4 linked regions of the Homo sapiens genome follow. The protein of the gene in region 1 interacts with the protein of each later gene in a biochemical or structural test. Each region holds a gene or a part of one and is shown in the gene's direction. Other genes may lie near its edges.

Region 1 (3,500 bases):
TTCCCCACAGAGCATGCTGGGGTGTTGGGCAGGCTCACTTTCTGCCTCTCTTCTCCCCATTCCTGAAGGCACACCCCTCTCTTCATGAAAAAAGCATTTATGTAGATATTCAGTCATTTAATAGGCCCAAATTCTTTCCCTTTTGAACAAATATTGACAACTTGGTAGCAGCATAAGCAGGAGACTGTCCTGAAGTCTGAGGAGTGCTGAGAACTCGCCAGCTGTTGCGCTGTTACCTCTCTCGGTAGAACTAGGAGAATTAGATATGCCTGAAACATTGTTCAGGTGAGAAAGCTGATCTATTGAATATGGAAATTGAGCTCTAAGAGATTTATACTCTGCAAGTAAAGTCTCTATTAAAACACCTGTTTTAGTATTAAATAGGGTCTGGCTGGGAAATCTGTCTCTTGGGGTTCCCTTTTCATTGTACACATAAGCATTAAGTGGGAGCATGTAGGACTATTTGTCATCTTTCTTTAAACCCTTAGCTTGGAATAGGTGGGAGTATAAAGAGGGCAAAAACAGGTAAGCGCCCTCCTGACAGGCATTGTAAGCTTGTGAACAGAGGAAGTTCAGTTTAGCTGGGTTACAATTTGAAACCTGACACTCGGACCAAAAACAAAAACTAACAAAAACTAGAGGAACCTGATCTTTAGTCCTGTAAAAGCACTTTTTCTCCCTTAGCTTCATCCCTCTTTGGGCAGATTTCATCATAGAAGTCCTTCTGTAGGTAGGAGTTTCTGGAAATGCACTAGGTCCAGGGCTTCCACCTTAAAGGGAAAGGGTGCACGGGGAGCTTGGGGACTGAAACAGGAGCCACAGAACATGTCTCTTCTTTAAATTCCTTGCGGATAGGTACTCAGGGCTTCGCTTGCTTTCTCACGTCTCTTTCCGTATGCACTCCACTGTCACCCTCTGGCCCTCTAACACATTTCCAAGAAAACTGCAGGCATCCATATCCTTCCTCAAAATGAAAGTGCATATGATATACTAGAGGTTGGTTATGTTTTGTTCTTTTGATGTAAAATTTAAATACAATGAAATGTAATCTTAAGTGTTCATTTGTTGAGTTCTGACAAATATGCCTGAAAAATGCAAAATCTTAAGACATGTAGAACATTATCACACTCAGCTACATATTTTGGATTTACATTTTTTAATCATTCTTGGTTTTTTTTTTTTTTTTGATATGGAATCTCACTGTGTCACCCAGGGTGGAGTGCAATGGCACATTCTCAGCTCACTGTAACCTCTGCCTCCTGGGTTCAAGCGGTTCTCCTGCCTCAGCCTCCCGAGTAGCCAGGATTACAGGCACATGCCACCACTCCTGGCTAATTTTTGTATTTTTAGTAGAGATGGGGTTTCACTGTGTTGGCCAGGCTGGTCTCAAACTCCTGACCTCAAATGATCTGCCCACCTTGGCTTCCCAAAGTGCTGGGATACAGGTGTAAGCCACCATGCCTGGCCCATTCTTGCATTTTAAAGTCATTTCAGGCTGGGCATGGTGGCTCATACCTGTAATCCCAGCACTTTGGGAGGCTAAAACAGGTAGATCCCTTGAGCTCAGGAGTTCAAGACCAGCCTGGGCTGGTCTTTGCCAACATGGCAAAACCCCGTCTCCACCAAAAGTACAAAAAATTAGCTGGGCGTGGTGGTGCATGCCTGTGGTCCTAGCTACTTGGGAGGCTGAGGTGGGAGGATCACTTGAGCCCGGGAGGCGGAGGCTGCAGTGAGCCAAGATTGTGCCACTGCACTCTAGCCTGGGTGACAGAGTAAGACCCCATCTCAATTTAAAATATATATATTATTTCAAACTTTAAAAAGATTCTAAAAATAGTACAAATAATTCCCATATACCCTTCACTTAGCTTCCTCAAACATTAACACCTTATGTAACCGTAGTCCAAATACCAAGATAAGAAAATTAACATTAGCAGTCTCTAGACCTCATTCCCATTTTAATCAGTTGTCTCACTGATGTCCTATTTCTGCCCCGGGACCCTCTCTGGAGCCACACAGTTAGTTGTCAGACCTCCCTGTCTCCTTCGATGTGGGATAGTTCCAGTCTTTTTTTGTCATGACCTTGGTATTTTTGAAGAGTACTGGCCATTGACTTTGGAAAGCCCTTCAGCTTGGATTGTCTGGTGTTTTCTCATTATTTGGAGTTTTACATTTTTGGTAAGAATAAAGTGCTGTTTTGCCCTTCCAGGACCTCTTTCAAGGTGGCACATGTGGTCGGTATATCTTATCTTAGGTGGTGCTAATTTTGATTATTAGTTAAGGTGGTGTCTGCCACGTTTCTCCACTGTAAAATCACTATCCTTCCCTTTACAATTGGTCAGTATATTTGGGGGAGATAATTTTAAACTATGTAGATGTCCTAGTTCTAGCTACCATTGATGAGATTACTGTGGTATTTGAGAAATTGTGATTTTTAAAAACTTTTTACGTGTATTAATTGGAATTCTATAAGGAGCCAATTTCTGTTCTCCATTTATTCAGTTATATTAATATGGACTCATGGATATGTGTTTCGGTCTTTGGGTTATGATCTATGAGTATGTATCTTCTTGCTCAGGTTGTTTGAGATTTGGCCTTTAGGAGCACCTTGAAGTGTGAGCCCTGCATTCTTTGCAGGCTTCCTTGCTGCCTGGCTCCTCGAGATGCACCAGGTTCATCCTTTGTGTTCCCTGTTCTAGTCCTGGAATCAGCCATTTCTCCAAAGGCCTCTGTCTGGTCCCTGTTATTGGAGAATCACGCTTTTTTAATGTGTGGCCTAAGCAAGGACACTTATAAACCCTGTGGCCACCTTCTCTGTAGACCCTGTTCATGTCCTATATGTGATCTCTTAGGAAAAAGGAAATCCTTGGGCTTTAATTTTCCAACTTTGGTCAAGAATTAAAAGTTCTTTAACTCAAAAGTGAGTCATAATTTTCATGTTTAACCTTTTTGTTTTGATACTGCAGTTATGCTTATGAGTGGCTATGAATTGTTATATGAGGTTTCAAAGTCCTAAGAGGAAAAACTTTCTAGGCACACCAGAGAGCCGGAGGCCTAAATTTTCTAAGGTCAGAACCTGTTTTGAGAGTCCTGTGTAGAGACAGGAGCCGGAGAGGGGATCCCAGCCCCTTGAAGTTTCAGGATGCGGCACGCTGGCTCACAGTGCTATGTGCTGTGGGCGGAGCCTCCGGAGCTTGGATCCTAGCTTCTCTGTTGGTGCCAGCAGGCTGCTCTTGTGTTTTGGGAGAAAGTGCTCCAGAAGCAACACATGCCTACCTGGTGCCACTTTCACAGCCTTTCAATGTAAGGAGGACATAGGCTGAAGTCAGTAGCAGGGCAAGGTGGTATCTGGAGTTCCCCTTTAATGCTCTGAAACCTGTAAAGAAAATTACATCTCGAAGATAAAAGAACAAACTCATTGCATGTCTGTTTGAATGCCAGGTGTGTTTTTTTTTAATGGGGATTGGTGATTCTAGAGCATAGCACTGTAAAAGAAAGGA
Region 2 (3,968 bases), on another chromosome or scaffold:
GTCAGAGGCAGGTCAAAGGTGGGGGTCCCACCTGGTCCCCTTGGCGCCTTCCCTTGGAATGCAGTGACCAGCTGCCTGGAAGGGTGGGCAAGGGGACAACAGGATGGGGTAAAGGCCAGTTACAAGTAGAATCCTGGAAGGCCGGGCGCAGTGGCTCACGCCTGTAATCCCAACACTTTGGGAGGCCAAGGCGGGCAGCTCACTTGAGGTCAGAAGTTTGAGACCAGCTTGGCCAACATGGTGAAACCCCGTCTCTACCAAAAAGTACAAAAATTAGCCGGGCGTGGTGGCACATGCCTGTAATCCCAGCTACTCGGGAGGCTGAGGCAGGAAAATCGTTTGAACCCGGGAGGCAGAGGCTGCAGTGAGCCGAGATCCCGCCACTGCACTCCAACCTGGGTGACAGAGTGAGACTCTGTCTCAAAACAAACAAACAAAAACCAAGTAGAATCCTGGATAGACAGTGGCTCAGGGACTCAGCTGTCCCCAAATCACCTACCTTAGCTCTTTGTGCAGGGGATGGGGGATCCCCAAGATCTTCAAAGATAGGGAGGTATCCTCAAGATCTTCAAAGGTGGCCAGGCGTGGTGGCTCACGCCTGTAATCGCAACACTTTGGGAGGTCAAGATGAGAGGAGGCCATCTTAAGGCCAGGAGTTCAAGACCAGTCGGGGCAACATAGCAAGACTCTGCTTCTGTTTCTGTTTTTGTTTTTGTTTTTTAATGTTTCCTCGAAATCCCACCTTAACATCTACACAATGGTGCCTACAGTTTTCCCCATTAACTTCCTCTCTGGGGACAGAATATTCCCCTACCCACCTAAGTTCAGCCAGAAGGAGATGCCTCATCCCCCCCACCCAGGCTTCCCAGTGCTGAGAACAAAAGAAACCAGTTTAGTTAGCATTTCCTGTGAATTCAAATGGGGGCCAGCAGTGCAACTGGGACCAGCCCATTCCCTGGGGGAGACTCAGCAGTGCTGGCCACTTTGCAGAGCCCCGTCTGGGTCCCCCACCCTGGCCCCCAAGGGCCACAGCATCCCCTTCCACCCACAGGCCTGGGCAAGGTGCAGTCCCCAGACTTCTGCAATCTTAACCGCTGTGCTTCCGTCGCAGTGGGAGGCCCCGCCTTTTCCCCTGCCTGCCCTTCGGGCACCTCAGGAAGGCACCTTCCTCTGTCAGAATGGCCACCATGGTACCATCCGTGTTGTGGCCCAGGGCCTGCTGGACTCTGCTGGTCTGCTGTCTGCTGACCCCAGGTGAGACCAGTCAAGCCGGGGAGGGCTGGAGAGGGCTGCGTTTTGGGGATCAGTAGAGGGTAGAGGAATAGAACGCAACGCTGTTCACATCCTGCCACACTGCGACCTGGCCGCTGACTCTGTATCCTCGGGAGAAAGTTCTGGTTCCTTAGTTCAGCCTTCAGGTGGTCAGGCCCCAGCATAGGCTTGTACGCCATCCCTCTCCCCTAACACACACACACACACCCCTCATGCTTCCTGCTCCATCTGAACTCCTGAAATTTGCCCTTTGCGTATGTGCTTCCCTCTGCCAGGATCACCTGTCCCTTTCACTTGCTAACTCCTACTTAGCCTTCAGTTTCGGGCTGCAATGGTCCCCGCTTCCAGGAAGCCTTCCCTGACTCACCTCCTCCTATGCTGGATCAGAGCCTCTTCTGGCCTCCTTCTGAGTTCTCCCCGGTCTCTGATGGATTCTACCTTTCCCACTGGACCATGAAGGCAGGAACCCTTCTGTCTCGGCACAAGGAGAGAGGTGTTAAATGGTGGGGCCTGTTGATGCGTGGGTTGGGGGACAAGGAAACAAACACCAGGACTTCTTCATGTTCCTGAAGGTGTCCAGGGGCAGGAGTTCCTTTTGCGGGTGGAGCCCCAGAACCCTGTGCTCTCTGCTGGAGGGTCCCTGTTTGTGAACTGCAGTACTGATTGTCCCAGCTCTGAGAAAATCGCCTTGGAGACGTCCCTATCAAAGGAGCTGGTGGCCAGTGGCATGGGCTGGGCAGCCTTCAATCTCAGCAACGTGACTGGCAACAGTCGGATCCTCTGCTCAGTGTACTGCAATGGCTCTCAGATAACAGGCTCCTCTAACATCACCGTGTACAGTGAGTCGACGTGTCCGGAGGTGGGACTGGTCTTGGGTAGTGGTGTGGGCAAGTGGCCAATGGCTCAGGAGAGTGGGGACCCTCAGTTTGCAAAGAATGGACCACAGTTCTGACCCAGAGCTCAGACCTGGACATTTGTGTGTGAGATACAAAGATAGACAGAGACAGAGACACAGAGACAGAGACAGAGATATAGAGACGCATCTCAATCTCATGCCAAGGCAGCAGTTGTGAAATCAATTAACTTGGGCCCCAACAAGCATTTTTTTTTTTTTTTTGAGACAGAGTTTCGCTCTTTTTGCCTAGGCTGGAGTGCAGTGGCACGATGTCGGCTCACTGCAACCTTCGCCTCCTGGGTTCAAGTGATTCTCCTGCCTCAGCCTCCCGAGTGGCTGAGATTACACATGCACGCCACCACACCCAGCAAATTTTGTATTTTTAGTTGAGATGGCATTTCACCATGTTGGCCAGTCTGGTCTTGAACTCCTGACCTCAGGCGATCCGCCCACCTCAGCCTCCCAAAGTGCTGGGATTACAGGCATGGGCCACTGCGCCCGGCCCCAACAAGCTTTTTTTTTTTTTTGAGATGGCGTCTCTTACTCTGTAGCCCAGGCTGGAGTGCAGTGGTGCAATCTCGGCTCACTGCGACCTCTGCCTCCCAGGTCCAGCTAATGCCCAGCTAAGTTTTGTATTTTTAGTAGAGACGGGGTGTTCCGCCCACATCAGCCTCTCAAAGTGCTGGGATTACAAGTGTGAGCCACTGCGCCTGGCCCCAACAATAATCCCAACACTTTGGGAGGCCAAGGCAGGAGGATTGCTTGAGTCCGGAAATTTAAGACCAGGCAGAGCAATATAGGGACACCCCGTCTCTACAAAAATAAATAAAAAATATTAGCTGGGCATGGTGGCACATGCCTGAAGTCCCAGCTACTTGGGGGACCAAGGTGGGAGAATCGCTTGAGCCCAGGAGTTCAAGGCTGTAGTGAGCTATAATTGCACCACTGCACTCCAGCCTGTGCAAAAAAGCAAGACCCTTGTCTCTTAAGCAAAAAAGGGGGTACCCCTTTCAGTCAGCAGTAGGCAAATGGAGGTTTTACATTTACACTTTTTTATACCTTTATTTTAGAGACAGGATCTCCCTATGTTGCCTAGGTTGGTCTCAAACTCCTGGGCTCAGGCAATCCTCCCACTTCAGTCTCTCCAGTAGCTGGGATTGCAGGCCTGGCTACTTTTTTTTTTCTTTTCTTTTCTTTTTTTTTTTTTTTGAGACAGAGTCTCACTCTGTCCCCCAGGCTAGAGTGCAGTGGCGCAATCTTGGCTCACTGCAACCTCTGCCTTCCGGGTTCAAGCGATTCTCCTGCCTCAGCCTCCTGAGTAGCTGGGATTACAGGCGCATGCCAACACGCCCAGCTAATTTTTGTATTTTTAGTAGGGACAGGATTTCACCATGTTGCCCAGGCTGGTCTCAAACTCCTGGCCTCAAATGATCTGCCCGCCTTGGCCTCCCAAAGTGCTGGGATTATAAGCGTGAGCCACCATGCCTGGCCTACTTTTTGACTTTTCTTTTCTTTGAGACGCAGTCTTGCTATTGTCCCCCATGCTGGAGTACAATGGCGCGATGTCAGCTCATTGCAACCTCCGCCTCCTGGGTTCAAGTGATTCTCCTGTCTTAGCCTCCTTAGTAGCTGGGATTACAGGCGTGTGACACCATGCCCGGCTAATTTTTGTATTTTTAGTAGAGACAGGGTTTTGCCATATGGGCCAGGTTGGTCTCAAACTCCTGACCTCAAGTGATCCGCCTCCCTCGGCCTCCCAAAGTGGTGGGATTACAGGCATGAGTCACCTTGCCCAGCCTTT
Region 3 (3,500 bases), on another chromosome or scaffold:
GATAGTTATTTCCCGACTAAGCTGGTCATTCCCAGTTACACCTATTTGGCTTTAAGGATTCTCACTACAGATAATGCTGAAGATAATAATATGAAGACTAGCTAATGTTTACTTAGAATTTCTGATGAGTCAGGCTTTGTTCTAAGGTCCTTGACTTATGCTAATTGAATTACATTTAGTTTCCATATCAATTTGATAAAGATAACACAATTTCATTATTCCTCTTATATAGATGAAGAAACTGAAGTTGGAGGGTTCAAGTAACCTTGTTTAAAGGCACATGGTTATCAAGTGGCAGGGCTAGGATTCAAATCCAGGCGTCAGTTCCTCTTAACTCTTCCCCATACTGTTTCTTTCCCTATTGAAGTGATTCAGTGTGAGCCTTTGGAGGCCCCAGAGCTGGGTACCATGGACTGTACTCACCCTTTGGGAAACTTCAGCTTCAGCTCACAGTGTGCCTTCAGCTGCTCTGAAGGAACAAACTTAACTGGGATTGAAGAAACCACCTGTGGACCATTTGGAAACTGGTCATCTCCAGAACCAACCTGTCAAGGTGAGTAACTTCAGACTAGAGGTTTTGTCATGCAATCCTGGGCTTACAGTCAGAACATTCAGTAGAAGTTTGCTGAGAAGTCAAACTTAGGAGCCTAATTTAACCTAACTTTGTTTAACCTACTGTGATGTTTCTCAAAGGACTTATTCTAACTAAATTTTTTTGAAAAACCTCCCAAACAAAAAGTAAAAACCAAATACCCCTGAAGCCATCTCCCAGTGTGTAACATGACTTATAGCAATACAGCATGGTTATACTGTGTTTTTTATTTTTCTCATTGCCATTGCATAAATAATGTCTTGTTGAACCTCAGTTACATTTTGGTTCTTCTCCTCTCAATAACACCTGTTTTATGTGGTGTCCTACTTAATACCAACCAGTTTCCTTCCCAGGGTAGTGGAGGTCTTTCTTGGTTGTTTTATTTGGCTTATTCTTAAAATCACTTTTACTTTTCCTCATGCATAAACTTTTAGGAGAATAACAACTGAAAAACAAAAACACAATCTCTTGATCTTTTCAAGTTTGAAATAAGGTAGGTTTTTTTTTTTTTTTCATTTTTAACTGCCAACCTTATCTCCATATGGGAGAAAACCAATGTCATCTGAACTTACGAAGTTTTGGTTAACTTTTCTACAAGTATGCTCCTGATGCATTAGTTTAAGTAGTTTAATTCTTAGAAGTGCTATCAAAATCCCTTATTGAAATTATAAAACTGTCAACCCACCTACTGGAATTTACGGAAGTTGGACTTGCTTCAGTGAATTGGGATGTTTTTCAAAATGCTTGGGTAGATATCAGAACAGATGAAACGGCAGAGATTCTCTGAGAATATCCCATAAGAGCCCTTGATGCAGAGGCCATATGGCATGGTACTTCCAGCAGAAGGGGAGGGTCACCTTAGCTAGGGCAGCAGCCTGGAGTAGCTACTCCTCTCCCCACAGCTTTCAATGCTTCCTTGCCTTCATCTCTCATTCACCACCCACCATCATTCTCAAGAAAATAAAGCCTGGAAGCAATATCACAAGTAATGTAGTCAGGCAGCTTTGGCTAAAAATCCTTTGCTCAAGGGAGGGTCTCTACTCAGAAATACTGTTTTGTCTTTTTTTTTTTTTTCTTTTTCATTGAAGTGATTCAGTGTGAGCCTCTATCAGCACCAGATTTGGGGATCATGAACTGTAGCCATCCCCTGGCCAGCTTCAGCTTTACCTCTGCATGTACCTTCATCTGCTCAGAAGGAACTGAGTTAATTGGGAAGAAGAAAACCATTTGTGAATCATCTGGAATCTGGTCAAATCCTAGTCCAATATGTCAAAGTGAGTAAGTTTGTCCTGGAAAACTGAAATCTTAACGATGGAGCTGATGGATGAGCAGATATGAGGAAAGACATACATAAACATTTACATGTTGTTTTGCTAAGAATATGTGGCCTAGAAATAAATTTGTATGCTTAACTCACTGTAAAATCTTTGGCTGGTCTTTCCTCCTCCTTTAATGACAATCATTTCCTTTTTTTGTTCTCACCTCTTGCCATCTTAACTCCTAAAATCTGAACTCACTGATTTACTTTTTACCCATTCTTCTATTCCACTACAATCTAACATCTCTGTTAGCCCATTGAAATGCCTGTAAAAGGTCACTAATGACCACCTACTTCCCCAAATAATGGATACTCCTGAATCATCACTAAGCTAATGCCTCCAAAATCTATCTGTATATGAGAAGAATCATGTCTTGTTCATCTTTGTATACCCTCCACCTGACACAGTGCCTGGCAATAGGTGCTAAAGCAAATGCATGTTAAGCTAGCATGTGAAAGAATAGCTACCTGTGTCTGCTCCTGAGACTATCTGCATGGATGACAAAAGTCTTTAAATGGTAGGATCTACAGAAGCTGTCAGAAATGCTGATCTCTGTGTGCTGCGTGCCCAGGGCCAGGGAGTAGAGTGGATGAGCAGAGAGAGGCAGGGAGGCCTTTAGCAGAGGACTGTGTATTAGGCCTATCAGAGACATTTCCCTTTAAGGCCTAGCTAGTGTTCATTTCCTCCTCATCTTCATCAAGCCAACAGGTACCTTCTGTCTGGAGCTCCTGGGAACTTGAGCCTTCTCTCAATCATATATTTGGGTGTGGGGATCAAATCACCTTGAAAAGGTTCATCAAAGTAATGGGAAGAACTAAGGATAGAATCAGACCCTCTGCCAATATGTAAAAAAGTAGATTCCTTCAAATGTTAGTATCAGGAGACAGATTTTTTTTTATACCAGTATTTTCAAATAGAGGCTCCCAAATGAACTTAGTTTACACTTACAAGAGTATCTCTAAACATGCCCTTTTACTTATTCGTGAAGGAAGTAGAGGGAAGTGGTAACTACTGCATTGGAAAGAAATTAGTGCAGGTCCTTGGCATGTAAAAATCAAGTGCTTATTTTTGCACAACTGCTTTAAAGTAAAAGCATTAATGATTTCCTTTGACTGGTGAATTATCCAGTTCAGATCATTGGCTTTTATTTTTCCTGAAGTTGTATTAGGCTTTTAGCTCTTCTCTGTGTTTCAGAGTTCCAGTCATTGAACAAGTCCATGGAGCTAAATACAACGATGACCATTCTTGCCAACATTTTTAGGTGCATTTTCAGGAACTCTATGAACCACAAATCTGGGCATTGAGATTCTGTAGGCATTAGACTAGCAAGGCTGGTCCAGTCTTTGCCTATGCTGTAGACTCATCAGGGGCCTTCCCATGCCAGTTTCCTCATCTGTCAAATGGCATCAAATGGGCTACTACTGGGAGATGTAAGGAGGAAAAAAGTCAAATATCATGAGATAGACTAAGGAAATAATGCTGGTGGTCTCATGCTATGTGCCTTACTGATTTCTCTTTCAGAATTGGACAAAAGTTTCTCAATGATTAAGGAGGGTGATTATAACCCCCTCTTCATTCCAGTGGCAGTC
Region 4 (3,500 bases), on another chromosome or scaffold:
GCAATGGTGTGACCTCTGCTCACTGCAACCTCCACCTCCAGGTTCAAGTGATTCTCCTGCCTCAGCCTCCCGAGTAGCTGGGATTACAGGCGTGCGCCGCCACGCCCAGCTAAATTTTTGAATTTTTAGTAGAGATGAGGTTTCACCATATAGGCCAGGCTGGTCTCGATCTCCTGACCTCGTGATCCGCTCTCCTCGGCCTCCCAAAGTGCTGAAATTACAGGCGTGAGCCCCTGCACCTGGACTGTTGTGTTCTTAAAATGGAAATGGAGCACGTTTCAGTGTAGATGGGAAAAAATCTTGTCAAGCAGGGAGAAAAGGAACATGCAAGTGAAAGAAGGGCTACTTGAATGTTCAGGATAATACTATTAAGGAAAAACTTGCTAGACTACCCACAGACACCTTTGAAATCACTTCTTCATCATGGTGAAGACCACAGGAAGCTTTGTGCTGAAGTCTTAAAGAGCCAGCATTTTGAAAGAACATGATTCTGTCAGTGTCAACGTCAGGCAATAGTGCCTGATAATGGAGACATCTGTGTCATGATTGCCATGCTCAGTTCATCTTCACTTACTTTTCCAGGAGCTGATGAGGATGTAGAGAGTCCAGAGCTGACAACATCTCGACCACTTCCAAAGATACTGTTGACTAGTGCTGCTCCAAAAGTGGAAACCACGACGCTGAATATACAGAACAAGATACCTGCTCAGACAAAGGTGCGTTCTATTTTCCATTGCATTGCATTATCAGGTTATTACAAATGCTTCACTTTACTGACTGTACACAACAGTCCCTTTTGTATTATTTTCTTCTTTTTGGAGCTACCCATCATGAACTATGTACACAACAGTTCTTTTAAAAGACCCCACTTAAAATTGTGTAAGGACAAATGGTCTTCAGGTGGTGTTATAAATGGCTCTTCCTTACTCTTTTTGATCATTTTGGCATTTACCCACTTATAATCTCTGTCATCCAGGCTCAAATTATATACAACTATTTTTCACATGGCCCTCCTTCTTAAGGAACGTCTGAAGCCCAGTTAAGAAGTAAAGCCCTGTTTCTTTGGTTTCCTGGTTTGTAGGTTACGTAATTAGAAGACTCCAGGTCACGTCTTGAGGTGGTCCTAGTCTCACTAAGTCATTTCTCAGTCTTCCTAGGCCGACCATCAGTACTATGTAATCCTTGACCTCTCTCGATGATGATGAACCTGGGTACATCTGTATATATTCATTTTGAGAGCTGACTTATTAAGAATAAGGTCTTTGGCCTTAGACCTGAGTAAAGTGACCAGCTAATGAAAACTTGGAGCTTGTGATTTTGACCTCGTTAATATTGCAGTTAGCTGACCATCCACTAATAGGTAACCCACTGAAGTTAGAACATGCATATTAAAGTCTGGCAAAGACCTAAGTTTCAAATCCTGGATCCAGTCAGGTTTCTTAGCTTCTGAACCCATTTCCTATGGGCCTTGAAGAAGATGAAATGTGAGTGCATGTAGCATGGCACCTGAGACCTAGTCACCATTCTGTAAGCATTAATTGAATTGGTGGAGCAGAAGAGACCAAGCCAATTCACCAAATGAGCATGTGTAATAACTGTAGTGGTAGACTTTGCAATCAGTGCAGGGGTAACATATGGCTTAAGAAAACTCAGAAGCACAAGCATCCCCTTTTAGAGCTCACCCATCTGTTGATTAGAAATGAGATGCTGCCAAGCTTTAGCAGCAGACAGGGTATGGATATGGAAGGCTGTTTGATGAAGGTGGCGACAGGCCTTCCTTGGAGTAAGAATCATCCCGTCTTCAGGCCAGAATGCATGTGGGCTTTTCTTACCCTTGCCCCAGAGTACCTTTGTTCTTCCTCCTCCTCCATCCTCCCAGTGCCTGTGACTGGAATGGTGAATGGCACCGCTGGATGGGTTTCTGCAGATGTGGAACAGCCAGGAAGCCAGCCCTGTCCAAATTGAAGTGCTTTCTGTAGGACCAAGAAGGGTCAATTACTATTAGTGGTAGACTTCACAAGCCAGGCGGTAGGAAGGCAGGGAGAGCCCTATGAGAACTGAGACCGACTCACCTGGCATGTGCTGGATCCATGCATAAAAGCTACTGTATCAATGTTTCAGTTGAGTGAATGAAACAAAAAAAGAAAGGGAGAAATGAAAAGTGCAGGTGCAATTGGTGGTACGATGACTGCCTCAGAGTGTGTGTGGCACAATTAGCTACTATTTACTAAAGATGCATTTGGCTCTTACCACATTTTTATTTGACCACTTCTCTTGACTAAATCTGCTGAAGTCAGAGACAATTAGGACTCACTAGCTTGAGGGAAGCAACTCTCCTGGGTGAGTTTTGGCTTGTAGTGATAGAGAGTTCTATCCTAAGCAAGACTTAATTTGACATAGAGTTCTGTCTGGTTTGTTAACAGCAATGGATTGACCACTAATTTAAGTTTTTAAAAATTGGTTTTAAGGAAGTAATTGCATCAGATCGAGATAAAAAATGTAGAACTTTGGCAGGTGAATTTAAAAATTAAGGAGCCCAAAAGATTTTAATACATTTATATTCTTACTATCATTTGTGTTCAATATAGTAATAGTAGAAATTCATCCATTTATAGGAGATTTGTTGAGTGCTATTCATTATGTGTCGAACACTGTTTGCAGCACTGATAATGATAATATTGATCATGAATAACATGAATAATAATGATTAAATTTTTCATTTTGCTGTTTATGTGGTACAGCCGAATTGAACATTGCCTCTAGGATACCATTAGTGTAGATTTTGCTTTTCAATTGGTCTCACAGTGGCATTAATGTCACTGTTACGGATATCCTATCTAGTTTGTTGTAAATTTAAGTGACTAAAATGCACAAAAGGGAATCTCGTTATTTGTTTGAGAAGAGCATCACTCATAAGCTTTTACTTCTGTTGCATTTCCATGGCATCCAAACAACCAGACATGGATGTGGCAGATCTTTACTTGGCCTCATTTAATCATCCCTGCTGTCTTTTTGCGGATTCATTTTGCACATACATTCATACAAGAGTGAAGGTATTTCAGATTAGTTCCATATTACCAAATGGTATCTTCTTAGTCAAGCCTTTGCTTCCATACGATAAAACATTTTGACTTAAAAAATGAATTTTCCACCCAGAGCCGCTTGAGGCTTGTGCACCTCCAGCTGCAGGGCGGCTCCAGTTCTGTGGAGTCCTTCAGTTCCCACACTCTCAGATCCCTGGATTGCACGCTTTGTTCAGCCTGCCGGATCAGAGGCTGAGTCAGAGGAAACTGAAAAGATCAACTCTCTTAAATGACTTTAGGGACTCAATCACATGGTGAAACCATATGATTTGTAATAATAATGGGACAAAGATGATATGGATATGGATGAATTAAACTCAGTCTCTCATATTACAGTAACTACTTAGGTCCATTTCATTTCTCACCAGAACTTGTTTACCTCTCTCCCTAGTCACAAACCTGAGTATTCACCTATTT

Evidence for each region.
Region 2: the proteins of EZR (region 1) and ICAM3 form a complex in vitro, tested with the Homo sapiens proteins (2 studies listed by BioGRID).
Region 3: the proteins of EZR (region 1) and SELL form a complex in vitro, tested with the Homo sapiens proteins (one study listed by BioGRID).
Region 4: the proteins of EZR (region 1) and SDC2 form a complex in vitro, tested with the Homo sapiens proteins (one study listed by BioGRID).

Annotation. Positions count from the first base shown.
Region 1 is NC_000006.12:158,777,869-158,781,368, reverse strand, and holds part of EZR (ezrin), read left to right. Parts: intron 1-3,500. UniProt on the Homo sapiens protein: Probably involved in connections of major cytoskeletal structures to the plasma membrane. In epithelial cells, required for the formation of microvilli and membrane ruffles on the apical pole. Along with PLEKHG6, required for normal macropinocytosis.
Region 2 is NC_000019.10:10,336,825-10,340,792, reverse strand, and holds the start of ICAM3 (intercellular adhesion molecule 3 isoform 1 precursor), read left to right. Parts: upstream 1-1,168; 5' UTR 1,169-1,178; coding exon 1,179-1,254; intron 1,255-1,547; exon of another isoform or gene 1,548-1,844; coding exon 1,845-2,111; intron 2,112-3,968. UniProt on the Homo sapiens protein: ICAM proteins are ligands for the leukocyte adhesion protein LFA-1 (integrin alpha-L/beta-2). ICAM3 is also a ligand for integrin alpha-D/beta-2. In association with integrin alpha-L/beta-2, contributes to apoptotic neutrophil phagocytosis by macrophages.
Region 3 is NC_000001.11:169,701,621-169,705,120, reverse strand, and holds part of SELL (L-selectin precursor), read left to right. Parts: intron 1-367; coding exon 368-553; intron 554-1,680; coding exon 1,681-1,866; intron 1,867-3,432; coding exon 3,433-3,500. UniProt on the Homo sapiens protein: Calcium-dependent lectin that mediates cell adhesion by binding to glycoproteins on neighboring cells. Mediates the adherence of lymphocytes to endothelial cells of high endothelial venules in peripheral lymph nodes.
Region 4 is NC_000008.11:96,601,813-96,605,312, forward strand, and holds part of SDC2 (syndecan-2 precursor), read left to right. Parts: intron 1-582; coding exon 583-716; intron 717-3,500. UniProt on the Homo sapiens protein: Cell surface proteoglycan which regulates dendritic arbor morphogenesis.